4 linked regions of the Homo sapiens genome follow. The protein of the gene in region 1 purifies or fractionates together with the protein of each later gene. This does not show direct contact. Each region holds a gene or a part of one and is shown in the gene's direction. Other genes may lie near its edges.

What was found.
Region 2: the proteins of CYB5A (region 1) and LGALS9 purify together in Homo sapiens (co-immunoprecipitation; one large-scale study listed by IntAct). This does not show direct contact.
Region 3: the proteins of CYB5A (region 1) and LRPAP1 fractionate together in Homo sapiens (co-fractionation; one large-scale study listed by BioGRID). This does not show direct contact.
Region 4: the proteins of CYB5A (region 1) and KCNMB1 fractionate together in Homo sapiens (co-fractionation; one large-scale study listed by BioGRID). This does not show direct contact.

The regions. Positions count from the first base shown.
Region 1 is NC_000018.10:74,289,164-74,293,095, reverse strand, and holds the start of CYB5A (cytochrome b5), read left to right. Parts: upstream 1-1,132; 5' UTR 1,133-1,220; coding exon 1,221-1,349; intron 1,350-3,932.
Region 2 is NC_000017.11:27,634,188-27,637,687, forward strand, and holds part of LGALS9 (galectin-9), read left to right. Parts: intron 1-3,500. UniProt on the Homo sapiens protein: Binds galactosides. Has high affinity for the Forssman pentasaccharide. Ligand for HAVCR2/TIM3. Binding to HAVCR2 induces T-helper type 1 lymphocyte (Th1) death.
Region 3 is NC_000004.12:3,525,923-3,529,422, reverse strand, and holds part of LRPAP1 (alpha-2-macroglobulin receptor-associated protein precursor), read left to right. Parts: intron 1-3,500. UniProt on the Homo sapiens protein: Molecular chaperone for LDL receptor-related proteins that may regulate their ligand binding activity along the secretory pathway.
Region 4 is NC_000005.10:170,382,868-170,386,367, reverse strand, and holds part of KCNMB1 (calcium-activated potassium channel subunit beta-1), read left to right. Parts: intron 1-896; 5' UTR 897-920; coding exon 921-1,054; intron 1,055-2,517; coding exon 2,518-2,689; intron 2,690-3,500. UniProt on the Homo sapiens protein: Regulatory subunit of the calcium activated potassium KCNMA1 (maxiK) channel. Modulates the calcium sensitivity and gating kinetics of KCNMA1, thereby contributing to KCNMA1 channel diversity.

The DNA.
Region 1 (3,932 bases):
CCTGACATGCGTGTGTTTTGTGTTTTTCTGGATAGGCATGCATTCCTATGGAGGAGGTAAGCAGGGGGAAGGGAGCTCACATTCATCAGACACCTAGTATGTGTAGGAACCTTCTGCATCCCTGGAAGGATGGATGACCCCACATGTGAAACCTCTCGTGTGGTTCTTTTTGGAATTAACTACCATTGCTGAAAAGGGCCTACATAAAATATCAAATTTTAACATGCTGGAATTTTTCTTTATTTTTTTTCTCCTTCAAACATTTGTAGCTCTTTATATGTGGTATTTCCTCTGTGTCAGAAGGGAAAGAGGGTGCCCTTTGGGGAAGTTCTCTTCCAGACTCCTAGAAGAGAATCTGATTTACCTTAAATGCACAAACAAGGCCTTGCCATGTCACTGGCCAACCGCAGACAAACTACTTCAGTCACAGAAATAATTTGGACACTTTTGCTTTTTAAGGAAAAGATGATTTCCCTGGATTTTTTTCCTGTGAGGACGAGGCATTCCAAAACCCCAGCGGGGTCAGGCACAGTTCGCCAACTTTATGTTTTGGGGGGCAGCGCATTTGCTTCCCGAAGTGAGTTGCGAAACCGTTTTCTAGCGCGCACGGGGCTTTCATCTCTTCCGTGCATGCGAACGGCTTTCCGAGATGCCCCCTTTATGGGCTTGGCCATCGCTACTTTTGTTACAAATTAACGTCTGGGACTCGGACTGCTGCCAATAGGAAACTCCCGCGATTCGCTGCCTAGTTCGCCGCCCTCACAAGACTGGACTCTGCACAGGCCATCCATGCCCGCTGGTGCACCTCGCTCTCTCGCACGCTTAACCCGCGGGGACGCCCCCGACCTCCCACCTCAGCCCTCGCCACAGTTAGTCCCGCCCTTCCGCGCAGACTCCGTGGAGTCCTGTCACGCTCTCCGCGCGCTGCGGCAGCCGGGAGATTGTGAAGGGCACCTCCGGCAGCCAATTAACACCCGCATACTGGGCGGGACCACGCTTGGGCAGGCGGAGGGGGTCGACCGAAGGCGGGGACTTTTGAGTGACAAGGATGATGGCCAACCGTCGGAGGCCCTTCTACTGCGCCCCGCCCCTGAGCCGGCCGCCCAGCCCCCAGTGGGGTTCCCGGCGCGGGGAATGTCCCGGGTGGAGCTGGCTGAGTCGCGCGCTCTGCTCCACCCGACGGGGCTGTGTGTGCTGGGCCTGGCTCGCGGCGAACCGAGATGGCAGAGCAGTCGGACGAGGCCGTGAAGTACTACACCCTAGAGGAGATTCAGAAGCACAACCACAGCAAGAGCACCTGGCTGATCCTGCACCACAAGGTGTACGATTTGACCAAATTTCTGGAAGAGGTGAGTTGGGGATGAGCGGCTTGGGGCGCAGGGAGCGTGGGCCGGGTTTGGGGGTTCACTGGCATGACCTGTCTTTCGCGGCCCGGAGTCCGCATACCTACGCCTAGGCGCGCCCCCCGAGTTCGCTCACCTGCGCGTGTACGCCTGGGCGCGCTTCCGAGTCCGCACACCTGCGCGTGCAAGCCTGGGCGCCCCCCACCGCCCCAAGTCCGCACACCTGCGCGCTCACACCTGGGAGCGCTCCCCGAGTCCGCACACCTGCTAGTGTACACCTGGGCGCTCTCCTCGAGTCCGCACACCTGCGCGTGCACACCTGGGGAGCGCTCCCTGAGTCCGCACACCTGCGCGTGTACACCTGGGAGCGCTCCCCGAATCCGTACACCTGCGCGTGCACACCTGGGAGCGCCCTGCGCGGCGGCATCCTCGCTAGGTGGTGCTGGAGCAGCCTTCCGGGGATAGCGCGCAGCCATGCGGGGGATTTAAATGATCCCTTTCTCCCTTGAGTTTGAATAGAAGGGTGTCCTTCCAGGACCGGCGGCATTCCCGCAGTGGCCGGCTGGAGACCACCCACCCCGAGAGCTGCGGATCCCGCCGGAGGGGACCCCAAGTGCGGAGGTCGGGTGTGGTCCGGGCCTGCGCTTCCCGCGGCAGCCACTGGCCGACCTTGCGGTCCACACCCACTCGCGTTCGCGTTCACCTGGAAGAGGCTCGGTGTTAATTAACCTTTTCCAGTCACGCCTTGGCAGCCAGGTGCCGTGCTTGACTCCTGAGACCGCGGTGTGTGGCTGGAGCAAGAACACAGAGGCCAGGCAGAGCAGCGGACGTTCTGCGTGGGACTCGCCCCTAACAGCTTTGGAAGGTGTAATAGGAAACGTTGGTTAACTTGAAGACATTCCTTTGATAAGATTCTTTGCATTCGGTTATAATTTTTGCCGCACACGCTAAGGGGCGCTTTTGGTGATTGTCTTAGATCCTCTGGAAGTGTTTTACTACTTTTGGGGGAGTCTCAATCATAAATCTTAACGCATGCTCACGCCCCCTCCCAATAATGAGAAGGTTTAGTGATGGGAATTTTTTACATAGTCGGGGAGCAGGGGACAAAAATAGATGCCTGGTCTGAGCTGGATCACAGTTTATATCAGAGGACTTTGTTTTTGCAGAAAATGTTAAAATCAAAAGGCCTGTTTTAAAAAATGAGGCTGGGCCAAGCACGGTGGCTCACACATGTAATCCCAGCACTTTGGGAGGCTGAGGCGGGTGGATCACTTGAGTCTAGGAGTTCGAGACCAGCTTGACCAACATGGCGAAACCCCATCTCTAACCAAAATACCAAAATTAGCCAGGCCTGGCGGGGCACGCCTGTAGTCCCAGCTACTCGGGAGGCTGAGACAGGAGAATCCCTTAAACCTGGGAGGCAGAGGTTGCAGTGAGCCGAAATCGCACCACTTTGCTCCAGCCTGGGGGACAGAGTGAGACTCTGTCTCTAAATAAATAAATAAAATTAAATAATAAGGCTGGAGTTGATGTTTATTGGTAAGGTATTTCACTCTGGAGCAGTGCCCGAAGATAAAGTCATGTTACCATTTAGTAAGGAGGGGTTTATGTTGGGAAATCAGAGCTGACCTGTCCTCTCCCTCCTGCCCGGCTGCAGATCTTGTCATATAACATCAATTCTCATTAACTCTAAATGTGGAATTTTAAGATACAGTGTGTGCTTTGTCTATTTGTGCTTATAGAAGAAGTAGCATAAGAGAATATTAGGATATTTTATATTATGAAGCATTTTCTTCTTTTCTTGTCTTCTCCTAAAGCGAGTTTTTTCAACCCTGGCACTGTTGACATTTTGGGCCAGCCGATCTTTGTTGTGGCGTCTGTCCTGGGCATTGTAGGATATTGAGCCACCTCCCTGAGTTCTACCCACTAGATGACCGGTACCACCACCTCCCCTATTTTTTTTTTTTTTTTTTTTTGAGACAGAGTTTTGCTCTTGTGGCCCAGGCTGGAGTGCAATGGTGTGATCTCGACTCACTGCAACCTCTGCCTCCTGGGTTCAACCAATTCTCCTGCCTCAGCCTCCCAAGTAGCTGGGATTACAGGCGCACACCATCACGCCCAGCTAATTTTTGTATTTTTAATAGAGACAGGGTTTCAACATGTTGGCCAAGTTGGTCTCGAACTGCTGATCTCAGGTGATCCACCCACCTTAGCCTCCCAAAGTGCTGGGATTACAGGCGTGAGCCACTGCTCCCAGCCCTACCTCCCCTATTTATAGCAACCCAAAATGTCTCCAGATATTGCCAGAGGTCCCCTAGGGCACATAATCTCTCCAACTTGAGAATTACTAAGGTTACTGTGCATGACTTTAGGGGTAGATTTTCAGAGACGATAATAGGGAAGTGAAGATTATTGTTAAAATGTACTCAAAACTATTTACTTTCACATTTCATTCCTGTGAGTCAGGAAAGGAGGGATTGTGCAAAAAATTTTCCGAGAAAAACTGAGAGATGAGAGCAAGCTCTTGAGTGGGTAAATTAGCTGAAAACAAATTTCTTTATTTTTTCTTACTCAAAGTTTTTGTGGAGA
Region 2 (3,500 bases), on another chromosome or scaffold:
TTTCCTTTTCCATCTTCTAGAGGCTGCCTGCAGGCCTTGGCTTATGACCCCTCCTGCCATCTTTAAAACCAGCAGCTTTGGCTGGGCCCAGTGGCTCATGCCTATAATCCCAGCACTTTGAGAAGCCGAGGCAGGAGGATCTCCTTAATCCAGGAGTTTGAGACCAGCCTGGGCCACAAAGTGAGACCACGTCTCTACAAAAAATAGACAAACATTAGCCAGGTGTGGTGGTGCATGCCTGTAGTCCTAGCTACCTGGGAGGCGGAGGTGGGAGGGTCACGTGAGCCTGAGGAAGTGGAGGCTACAGTGAGCTGAGATCGCGTCAACACACTCCAGCCTGGCTGACAGAATGAGATCCTGTCTCAAAAAAAACAAAAAACAAAAAACGAAAACAAACAAAAACCCCCCAAAAACGCAAACCAGCTTCTTCTTGCTTCTGTGCTTCTGTTGTCACATCTCCTACCTCTGACACTGATCCTCCTGCCTTCCTTTTATAGGATCCTTGTGATCACATTGGGACCACCTTTAAAATCAGGACAATCTCCCCATGCCAAAATTACTAATTTAATCACATCTACAAAGTCCCTTCTACAACATATTCACAGTTTCCGGGGATTCGAATGTGGATGTTTCTGGGGGGTGGCCCACTGGTAACCAGTGTTATAAGTTTCTTATAAATCCTTCCAGATATATTTTATCTATAAATAAATAAATGCAAGTCCATAGACTTCCCCCACCCACTTTTTATACAAATGGCATCATTCCATATCAGTGCTCAGAGTTCTGTCTTCCTCTTTTTCTTTTCTTTTTAAGGCTACACAGAACCTATTAAATGGAAATACCCTAATTTATTTCACCTTTTTCCTGTCAGAGGACTTTTAAGCTCTTTCCAATGCTTTGCTTTATAATCCTTTGTGTTATAATGCTGCAATGAATAACCTTGTTTGTAGGATGATATTCAATTTAAAAACTCATTTTTCAGGCCAGGCATGATGGTTCATGCCTGAAATCTTGGCCCTTTGGGAGGCCGAGCCGGAAGGATCACTTGAGCTAGCCCAGGCAACACATAGAGACCCCATCTTTACAAAAAATATTGTAAGATTAGTGGGACATGGTGGCCTGCACCTATTTTGTCCCAGCTATTCGGGAGGTTGAGGCGGGAGGATTACTTGAGCCAGGGGGTGGAGGCTGCAGTGAACCATGATCACAGCCCTCACTGAACTCCAGCCTGGGCAACAGAGTGAGAACCCATCTCTAAATAAATAAATAAATAAATAAATAAATAAATAAATAAATAAATAATCTTGTTTTTCCGAATTTTGGGGGCACTATTTAAGATATTTTGAAACCTCACAGAGCTTTTTTGGGGAACTTGTTGCCTTGGAGATTAGCCTGTCCTGTCCCGCCCCCATGATCTGTACTTCCTCTTTCTCCCTCCTGGCTTCCTTAATTAAGCCTTGTGTGTACTTGCCAGCCCATGTCCATCACGCTCTGCCTTCAATTCTAGATGCTGTGCTGTGAATACACTTAAGTGGAGGCCGCATGCTTCCCAGGAGGGTGTGTATTTTCAGTGTTGTGTCTCATGATAGTATGAAAGGCTCTGGAGAGAATCACAGGCTTCCACAAACAGGCAAGGAGAAAAATGTTCCACAGACATGTTTCAGGGAAAACAGGCTTCCCAATCCTAGGCCGTGCTGGTCCATAATTGGATCAGGCTGACTCTCCTTCCCCTACACTGCTGGTGTAGACAGGGACAAGAATGAGAAGTCAGAGACACAGAGAAGCTGTGATTTGCTTGAGGTCACTAAAGTACTTAATGGCAGAGTTCAGACCTGACCTGAGGGGCAACAAAAGACACCCCCCTCAAATCCATGGGGAGCAGAGTCTAACTGAATCAGATCCCAGATTTCCTGGGGCTCTCACGGTGCCAGGTGTGTACACTGAGCTAGGATGGGTTTCCCAGGGTTCTGTGTGGTCACACAACTCAACAATACAGACCAGAAAGCAGTGGCAAGTAGGCTGAATTTGGCTGGTGGGTGTTTTCTGTTTGGCCTGCACAGTGTTTCTTTTAACGTTTTATTATAGGAAATTCAAACATGCAGAAGGAATTGTACCATCAACAACACACACCCATCACTCTGCTCCAACAATGATCAACTCAGGCCTATCTTGCTTCATCCTATACCCTCCCTCGCTTGCTTCCTTCCCACCCTCAGATATGTGGAAGCAAATCCAAAGATACCATTCCATTTCAAATATTTCATTTTGTATCTCTATAATATGGGAATTTGGGGGGTTTCAAGACAGGATTTCACTTTGTTGCCCAGGCTGGAGTACAGTGGTGTGATCATGGCTCACTGCAGCCTCCACCTCCCAGGCTCAAGGGATCCTCCCACCTCAGCCTCCCAAGTAACTAGAGTTAAAGGTGTGCACCACCACACCTAGCTATTTTTTTTTTATTTTTTGTAGAGATGGGGGTCCCATTACGTTGTTCAGGCTGGCCTCAAACTCCTGGGCTCAAGTGATCCTTCTGCCTCAGCCTCCCAAAGTGCTGGGATTATAGATGTGAGCCACTGTGCCCAGCCAGGAGCTTTTACATAATCCTTTTTGACAAATTTTCCCCCAAGAAATTAGAAAGTTTTATAGAAAAAAAAAATCCGGACTTCTGTCTTCTCTTAAAAATTTGGAAGCTCTGCCAATACTGGGCCCAGATGGCAATCACTGCTTAGCACGGAGTAGATGTTGACTTTTCAGATGAGGGGTGTGACATCTACTTTGCCACAGTCCCCACCACTCCCCCACCTGGCCATCTCACCCATACACATCACCTGCCTGGCTCCTTTAGGCATTTAATTTGTGTAGGAAATTGACCTAAAGGAGATATTAGAGAAGACATTAAAAACTTGAAGAATGTGAAAATCAGCCAGGAGATAGAACTGTGCTTTAATGCGGGTTATAGAACGACATTGGATATGAAGCATTTTGGGAATAAACTTTGAAAATTGGAAGTACCAGTTTGTGAATTTTGCTGAGAGAGATGAAGGTGGGGGGTGGGTGACAGTGGTGAAGCATCTCCTATGTGCCAGTCTCTTTTACCACAGGCTGTTTCTCACAAAATCATCAATCATATGCAGCAGGTGAAACACCTTCCTATTTTACAGATGAGGAAACTGAGGCACAGAGAGGTGAAATAGGCTTCCCAAGGTCACTCAGGTCATGAGCAGCAGAGCTAGGATTCAGACCTGGAGTTGGCCTGACTCTAAAACGATGCATGCCTCACCATGGCCCATCACTCCTTTAAAGAGCACCAGAAGAGAGAATTTGACAAAGTGGTTGCCCGTGGGGCCTGGGATGGGTGGGGAAACCACGCTAGGCCTCGGGGCTGCTGAGGGCCTGAGGGAAGGAATGGGGAGCCCGGGCACAGAAATAGAGGAGGGGGCTGCCCCACGGCTACAGAAGGCATCTGGGAAGACGCTCTGCTGAAGGTGGCCAGGAGGGCA
Region 3 (3,500 bases), on another chromosome or scaffold:
ACTCGTGTACCTCTTGGCCTGGGCTGCACGGTGCCATGAGCTCGGAGTCCTTGGCCATAGGTCCTTAGTTTTTTTGGTTTTTTGTTTTTTTGTTTTTTTTGAGACAGAGTCTCACTCTGTCGCCGAGGCTGGGGTGCAGTGGCGTGATCTCGGCTCACTGCAACCTCCGCCTCCCAGGTTCAAGCGATTCTCGTGCCTCAGCCTCCTGAGTAGCTGGGATTACAGGCATGCACCACCATGCCTGGCTAATTTTTATATTTTTAGTAGAGACGGGGTTTCACCATGTTGGCCAGGCTGGTCTCGAACTCCTGGGCTCAAGTGATCCTCCCGCCTCTGCCTCCTAAAGTGTTGGGATTACAGGTGTAGTCCCAGGAGGCACCGCACGCAGACAGTCCTTAGTTCTGACGTGAATGGTGACTGCAATGAGAGTGTGTGAAGCATCTTGTTCTCAGAGGTCTGACGAGTGGAAACTGAGGTCTGCAGAGAGGAGCCCTCAGAGCCCCACCCCAGCTCTCAAGCGTCCCCCCTGGCTTGAGAAGGGCCTCTGAGGATGGGCCAGCCAGTGGCCTCCATGGGCACCTAGGACTCGCCAGGCCAATGCATGACCTCACAGCAGCTCAAGGCGGGTACGGCTGTGCCCTTGTCCACGGAGCTCAGGTGGAAGGAGCTGGGGCACAGTGGCTGGGCTGGGACAGTGCATGCCACCTGCCGTGGTGAGACAGGTACAGCGTGCCAGGAAGCCTTGGTCACCGCCACAGCCTGCTCCTCATGGTGGGTGCCTTGCAGTCTGGCGCGGGCACTCAGGTGAGCGCTGGGAGGATGGCACATGCCCTCTGAAGAGGTGGTCCATTGGCGGTCCTGGTGGCATTGGAACCTGCCCAGCCTGAACTGTGCGGTGTGTGCAGGTTGACACCAGTGGTGTAGCTGTGGACCCTGGCCTGGGTTTCCTGGGGCGTTGAGAAGCAGCAGCAGGTTATTGGAAAGTTCCAGAAAGCTCTGCTGGCACGCGGGTGGTGCTGTGTGGGGAAGGGCCACTGCTGAGGTCCCAAGCAGTGCTGGGCCCTTGGGTCTGGTCAGGAGGACACGGTCGGCTCTGCTTGTGTCTGGGGACACAGGACCGGCGTCGTTTGATCAGCTGAGCCGGCTTTCTTGCCTGCATGTATACCCTGGTTGTTGATGATTTGCCTCGCTGCTTCATGTTTGACAGGTTCTTTTCTGCAGTTGGTTTCCACAGGGTACTTCTAACTTGATGCGTTAACATTTAACTTGAGAGAGGTGAAAGAATCCAGACGTGGGGTCTGGGGTCTGCACGTGACCTGCTGGTCTTCCTCTGCACAGAGCTGGGGCTGCTTTTTGTGGTGGTGCTGCCAGGCTGGCCCCTTCTGCGCTGAGCACTGGCAGCCACACATCAGGGGAAAGGGAGCTGGCTTTTGTGAGACATGCGGTGTGAAATTTAGACCCCCTGTTGCCTGAGAGTTGGGGAATCAGAGGGAGAAAATGACTTTCCCCTGTGGGTTGCAGATTTTACAGCCCACAGAGCACCTGCCCTTGATTCTCCCAGCACCCTAGGGAGGCAGACAGGAAGCCAGTGAGGACTGCAAGTTACAGGGGTTGGTGCCTGGCTGTGAGCCTGCCAGGATGGGCCCAGGACTTCAGCAGCCCTGGGTCTTCAGCTCCGCTTTCCAGCAGGCAGCCCATGGGCAGTCATGGGACACCTGCATCCTCTCCCCTGCAGCCAAAGAGGGCAGACCCGGGGCCCCTCAAGGCCAGCACACACTTGAGAGCATGGGCCTGAATTGCCTGCCCCAGGGTGCTGCTTCTGGCTCAGACCATCACTGTGGGCCTCGCATCTCAGACCCTCCCGGGCAGTGCAGCACGGTAAGTAAGGCGCCTACAGGGTAGCAGCAGCCACGGGGAAGTAGAGATGGAAGCAGACCTGTTCCTCCAGGAGTTTGGGTCACAAACAAGATAGGCAGGTGTGGGCTCCCCCTCCTCCTGAGGCACCGACTGCCCCTCCTGAGAGTTCAGCGTCACTCAGGTGCCTCATTGTCCTGGGTCCTCCTGCTGGGAATGCTCAGATCAGACCTCAGGTCTCCTAGGGCCTTCCAGTGGACGCCGCAGGCAAGTGTCCAGGGCACAGAGGGGCACGGGGTGGAGCTCTGGGGAGAAGGGGCTGGGTGGATGGGGCTGGCTGGGTGGATGGGGCTGGCTGGGGAAGAGGCACACAGGTAGGGGTGTGTCGAAGGCTGCCAGGGAAAGGGTTTTCAGGTTGGGACAATCCTGGAAAGCAGCCCCTGCAGAGATGGGGGCGCAGAGCATCTACCAGGAGGGCCCAGACAAAAGACTGTCCTGGGACCACCCACTAAGGGTTAGAGAACCTTCTAGAGAATTAGAAGCTTTCCTCTGCCCTAGGCCCTGCCATTCATTTTGTGCCTACCGTTTGCTATCTTTTTACCATTGGGGATCTTGGCTCAGTAATCTGAATTCATCCCTAACTAAATTTTAAACTCCTGGAGGGTGGGGCCTGTGTGGCTAGGGCAGCCACAGAGTCAGGCTGGGCTTCTGAGAGAAGAGAGGGCGGAGCTGACAGCCCCAGCACCCAGCTGGAGACAGGGCCTGTGGTCAGGGGTCTCCTTCCTCCCAGGCCCAACACAGACTGAGCTGCAGGGAGCAGGATGGGCTCAGTCTAGATACAGGCAGAGTGAGGCGAGGAGGTTCCGGAGTGTGGGGTGTGCCAAACACACAGAATTGGCTTCGTGCGAGTCTTGAAAGAAACGTGTGCCCCTGCGCGGCGCGGACCTGAGGGCTGGGCCTCCTGAGGTCTCGGGCTGCAAGGCAGTGTGGGCCACAAGGCGGCGCGGGCTGCGGGACACTGGGAAGGCAGCCGGCTCTTGACGCTTCGTGGGGATGTTCACTGTTTTACGTAAACTTTATTGAAATATAACACACATACTTTGGATACTAGCTTGTGTTGTATTTATGTTAGAAAATAGCTAATGAAATATAGATAAAAGATTAATATTTCAAACGTCTAAGGGAAAACAGACTCCATATTTAAACACACATGATCAGAGACAGGCGTTAGGTGATGGGCACCTGGAGCTCAGAGGCAGGAGCTGGGGTTCCCTCCTAGAGCCACGGGCAGCTCATGAGGACCAGCCCCGGGGGAATGTGAGAATGCAGGTGCTCAGGGAAGGGGACCCTCCTGAGAGCCGAGAGATTTGGGGATCTGCACTGCACAGTGCCGAGCACTTCCTTTGCTGCAGGACTCCACAGAGGCTTTAATGCGCTGGCGTCACTACAGGCATGCGGTGCAGCCTCCCCAGTTAGCCAGGGACAGCACCCTGTCTCCGTGAACCCTGGTCCCACCTCATGACACGTTCTGGTTCACACAGCTGGGCCACTCTGCTCTGCACGGAAGAGCCTTCGCTTCCCTGAAGGGCTAGCCTGCCCCAGCGCACGCCTCTTAGCGGCCGGGCCAGCCCCGAGGCCAGAGTTGA
Region 4 (3,500 bases), on another chromosome or scaffold:
CCGTGGGGGATGAGCCATTGTTCCTTGCCCCCGCCAGCTTCTGACGCACTCCTTGGCCTGTGGTCACATCACTCTAATTGCTGTCTCCCTGGTCATATCACCTTAGCTTTCTCATCTGTTTAATCTCCCTTCACTTCCCTCTTATTAGGACCCTTGGGATTACATTTAGGAGCTACATGGATAATCCAATATTGTCTCCCCATTTCAAGAGCCTTTATCTTTTTTTGTTTTTTGTTTTTTTTTTTGACGGAGTCTTGCTTTGTTGCCCAGGCTGGAGTGCAGTGGCGCATCTCTGCTCACTGCAAGCTCCGCCTCCTGGGTTCATGCCATTCTCCTGCCTCAGCCTCCCCTGTAGCTGGGACTACTGGCTCCCACGACCACACCCGGCTAATTTTTTGTATTTTTTTTTTTTAGTAGAGATGGGGTTTCACCATGTTAGCCAGGATGGTCTTGATCTCCTGACCTCATGATCCGCCCACCTCGGTCTCCGAAAGTGCTGGGATTTCAGGCATGAGCCACCGCACCTGGCCTTCAAGAGCCTTTATCTTAATCATTTCTGCAAAGTCATTGCCACATAAAGTAACATTGATAGCTTCCAGAGACTAGAACATAGACATCTTGGGGGGCCATTACTGAGCCTATTACATACTGTGTGACCTAGGGCAAGTCACTTTACCTCTCTGAGCCGTAGGTCTTTTATCTGCAATTGCCTCTCAATTGCACAGGGAAGGCTTACATGGGGTCCAAAAAGCAAGACTTCTGGAAGTTGCAAAGCTCCAAATATAAACAAGAGTGATATTAATAGTTGAGTACCTTCCCCTCTCACCTGTCCTCTCTTTCTGTGGATCACCTGTGAACTGGGCTGATCTCACTTCTGTTTGCTTCTGTGGACCTAGAAATGATCACTGCCCCCAGTGAATATGGTGAAGAAGCTGGTGATGGCCCAGAAGCGGGGAGAGACACGAGCCCTTTGCCTGGGTGTAACCATGGTGGTGTGTGCCGTCATCACCTACTACATCCTGGTCACGACTGTGCTGCCCCTCTACCAGAAAAGGTACTGAGCTCTCCCGGCCTGCCCACCCCCCAACCCTCTCCTAAGGGTCTGGCATCTGTAAGGAACCCTGGCCTTCTACTCACCCCTCTCCTTGACCCTCATTCAAGGCAGCAGGGTCAAGACGATGCTCATTCTTAGGTTCTAGGGTTCAAGTGCAGGGAAGGTAGGATGAACTGAGCCCCACTGGTCTGAGATTCTAGGACCTGGTGGTAACAGACACATGATCTAGGACGTGGTGGTAACAGACACATGATGCCCTTCTCAGAAGAAATAGCAAAGAATCAGAGCAAAGGTTCCAGTGCAAGTTTGATCCCAGGAGGAATCAGAGAATTGCAGATGTTTACAGCTCAGCTGCATAATTCTCTCCCCTCTGAAGCCTCCCTGTCAGGTGGGCATCCAGCCTCCTGATGAATACCTCAAGAGACGGGGAGCTCCTTGCCTCACTGAACATACATTTCATGTTTGAGGTTTTCTGATGTGTCTGCATTGAGCCAGCATCTGCTTCCCTGAAGTTCTGCTCAGGAATCTCAGAGAATGGTCCATGCCCTTGCTCCATGACATATCAACCACTTGAGATTTTAAGGAAAAGCTGTGAATTCCTAATTCGTGTTCTATTTGGAACAAAGACACTCAGTTCCCCCAGCCTGTCCTTAGGATAAGTCTCAGACCTGTGCTCTGGGCACGTTCCAGCAGCTGACAGCCCCCTTCTGACTGGCAATGGGTCTCCCACAGGATACTTGGGAGTTGAAGCACAACTGATTTACTAATATGTTGATGAACCTGTTAGCCTCTCCCGGGCCTGCTGCAGCCTCACTCTTCACAACGCTGAAGCGATTCCAGGCTGGACTCTTAATCTGGTGAAGCACCATCTAGAGACTGTCCCCACCATCTTTCCCATCCTGGCTCAACTCAAACCCCTTCTACATCTGCTCCTTTTAGGGGAAAGAACACAGCTCTCCAACCCACTCAGACCTAGCTTCAGGTCCTGCAAGGTCTCAGCAAAGTCACTTGACCTTTCTGAGTTTCTCTTCTGCCTCTGCAAAATGAAGACGATATGGATAAGAAAGTCTCAGGTTTGGCTGCTCGTCAGAATCACATCAGGGAGCTTTGAAAAAACACCCAGGGCCTGGGCCAAACCACCCAAGAAGTTCTGATTCACTTGCTCTGGGGTGTAGCTTGGACACGGGAATCTTTTTAGAAGCTCCCCAGGTTGTTGCAAGAGTAGCCAAGGTTGAGAACCAGTCATATAGATAATGTCTAAGACCCCATCCAGCTTCTACAATTCCTCCCTGTGTCCGGGGACTGTGGGGTCATGTGCCTTTATTGCTGGATGCTGAAGACAAGATGAGGATCCCAGTCCTGGATCCCTCTAGAGGCTCCCAGGGGATAATGGGTTCAAATGGGTGTTCTGTGTGTCACCCAGTTCTGAGATGTGTATGTGTGCATGTGTGTGGTCTCCTCAGCGTGTGGACCCAGGAATCCAAGTGCCACCTGATTGAGACCAACATCAGGGACCAGGAGGAGCTGAAGGGCAAGAAGGTGCCCCAGTACCCATGCCTGTGGGTCAACGTGTCAGCTGCCGGCAGGTGGGCTGTGCTGTACCACACGGAGGACACTCGGGACCAGAACCAGCAGGTACTGAACTGGAGGGATGGGGACACATCCCTTTATCCCTGTCAGGTGTGTGAGCCTGTTCCTAACTGTCCCTGTCCCCGAGGCTGAGAAAGATCAACCCACTTGACCAGGTCTCACAGCTGGAATGAGACTGAGCCAGCCCTAGCTCTTCTGTGTTGGAGTCACACAGACCTGGGTTTGAATCTGCCGCTAACTGGCTGTGTAAACATAGGCAGGCCACTTAGCCTCTCACCTCCTCAGTTTCCACCCTTGTAAAGTGGAATGCTAATGCTGCACCTTGAAGAGCTGTTATCAAGTCAGAGACGCTGTATATAAAGTGCCACGCTTGATGCTGAGTGGATAGTGGGCACTCAAACAAAAGCAGTGATTAGTGTTAGTACTTTCATTCTACAACCTCAGTCAAATGAGGGACCAGGCCCAGGGCCAGATCCTCAAAGTGGAATCCCGGTGACTCCCCAGGAAACCAGGGACTCAGGGCTGGAGTAACCTCCATAAACAAACATTTAGATGGTTTTTCCATCCTTGCATCCCAACATCCCACCCTCCCCCTCCAAAACACAAAACTCACCACCATATCCTTTCCTAAAGCGATCAGTTGGCCCATATTCTGTCTCTCTTCCTTCCTTCTTTCTTTCCTTCTTTTTTCCCTTTCTTCCCTCCTTCTTTCTTTTCTTTTTTTTCCCCTCCCTCCTTCCCTCCCTCTCTCCCTCCCTTCCTTCCTTCCTTCCTTCCTTCCTTGTTTCCTTCTTTCCTCCTCTCATTTATTTATTCAACAGCCATTGAGCACCTCCTGTGTCAAGCCTGTAGGACT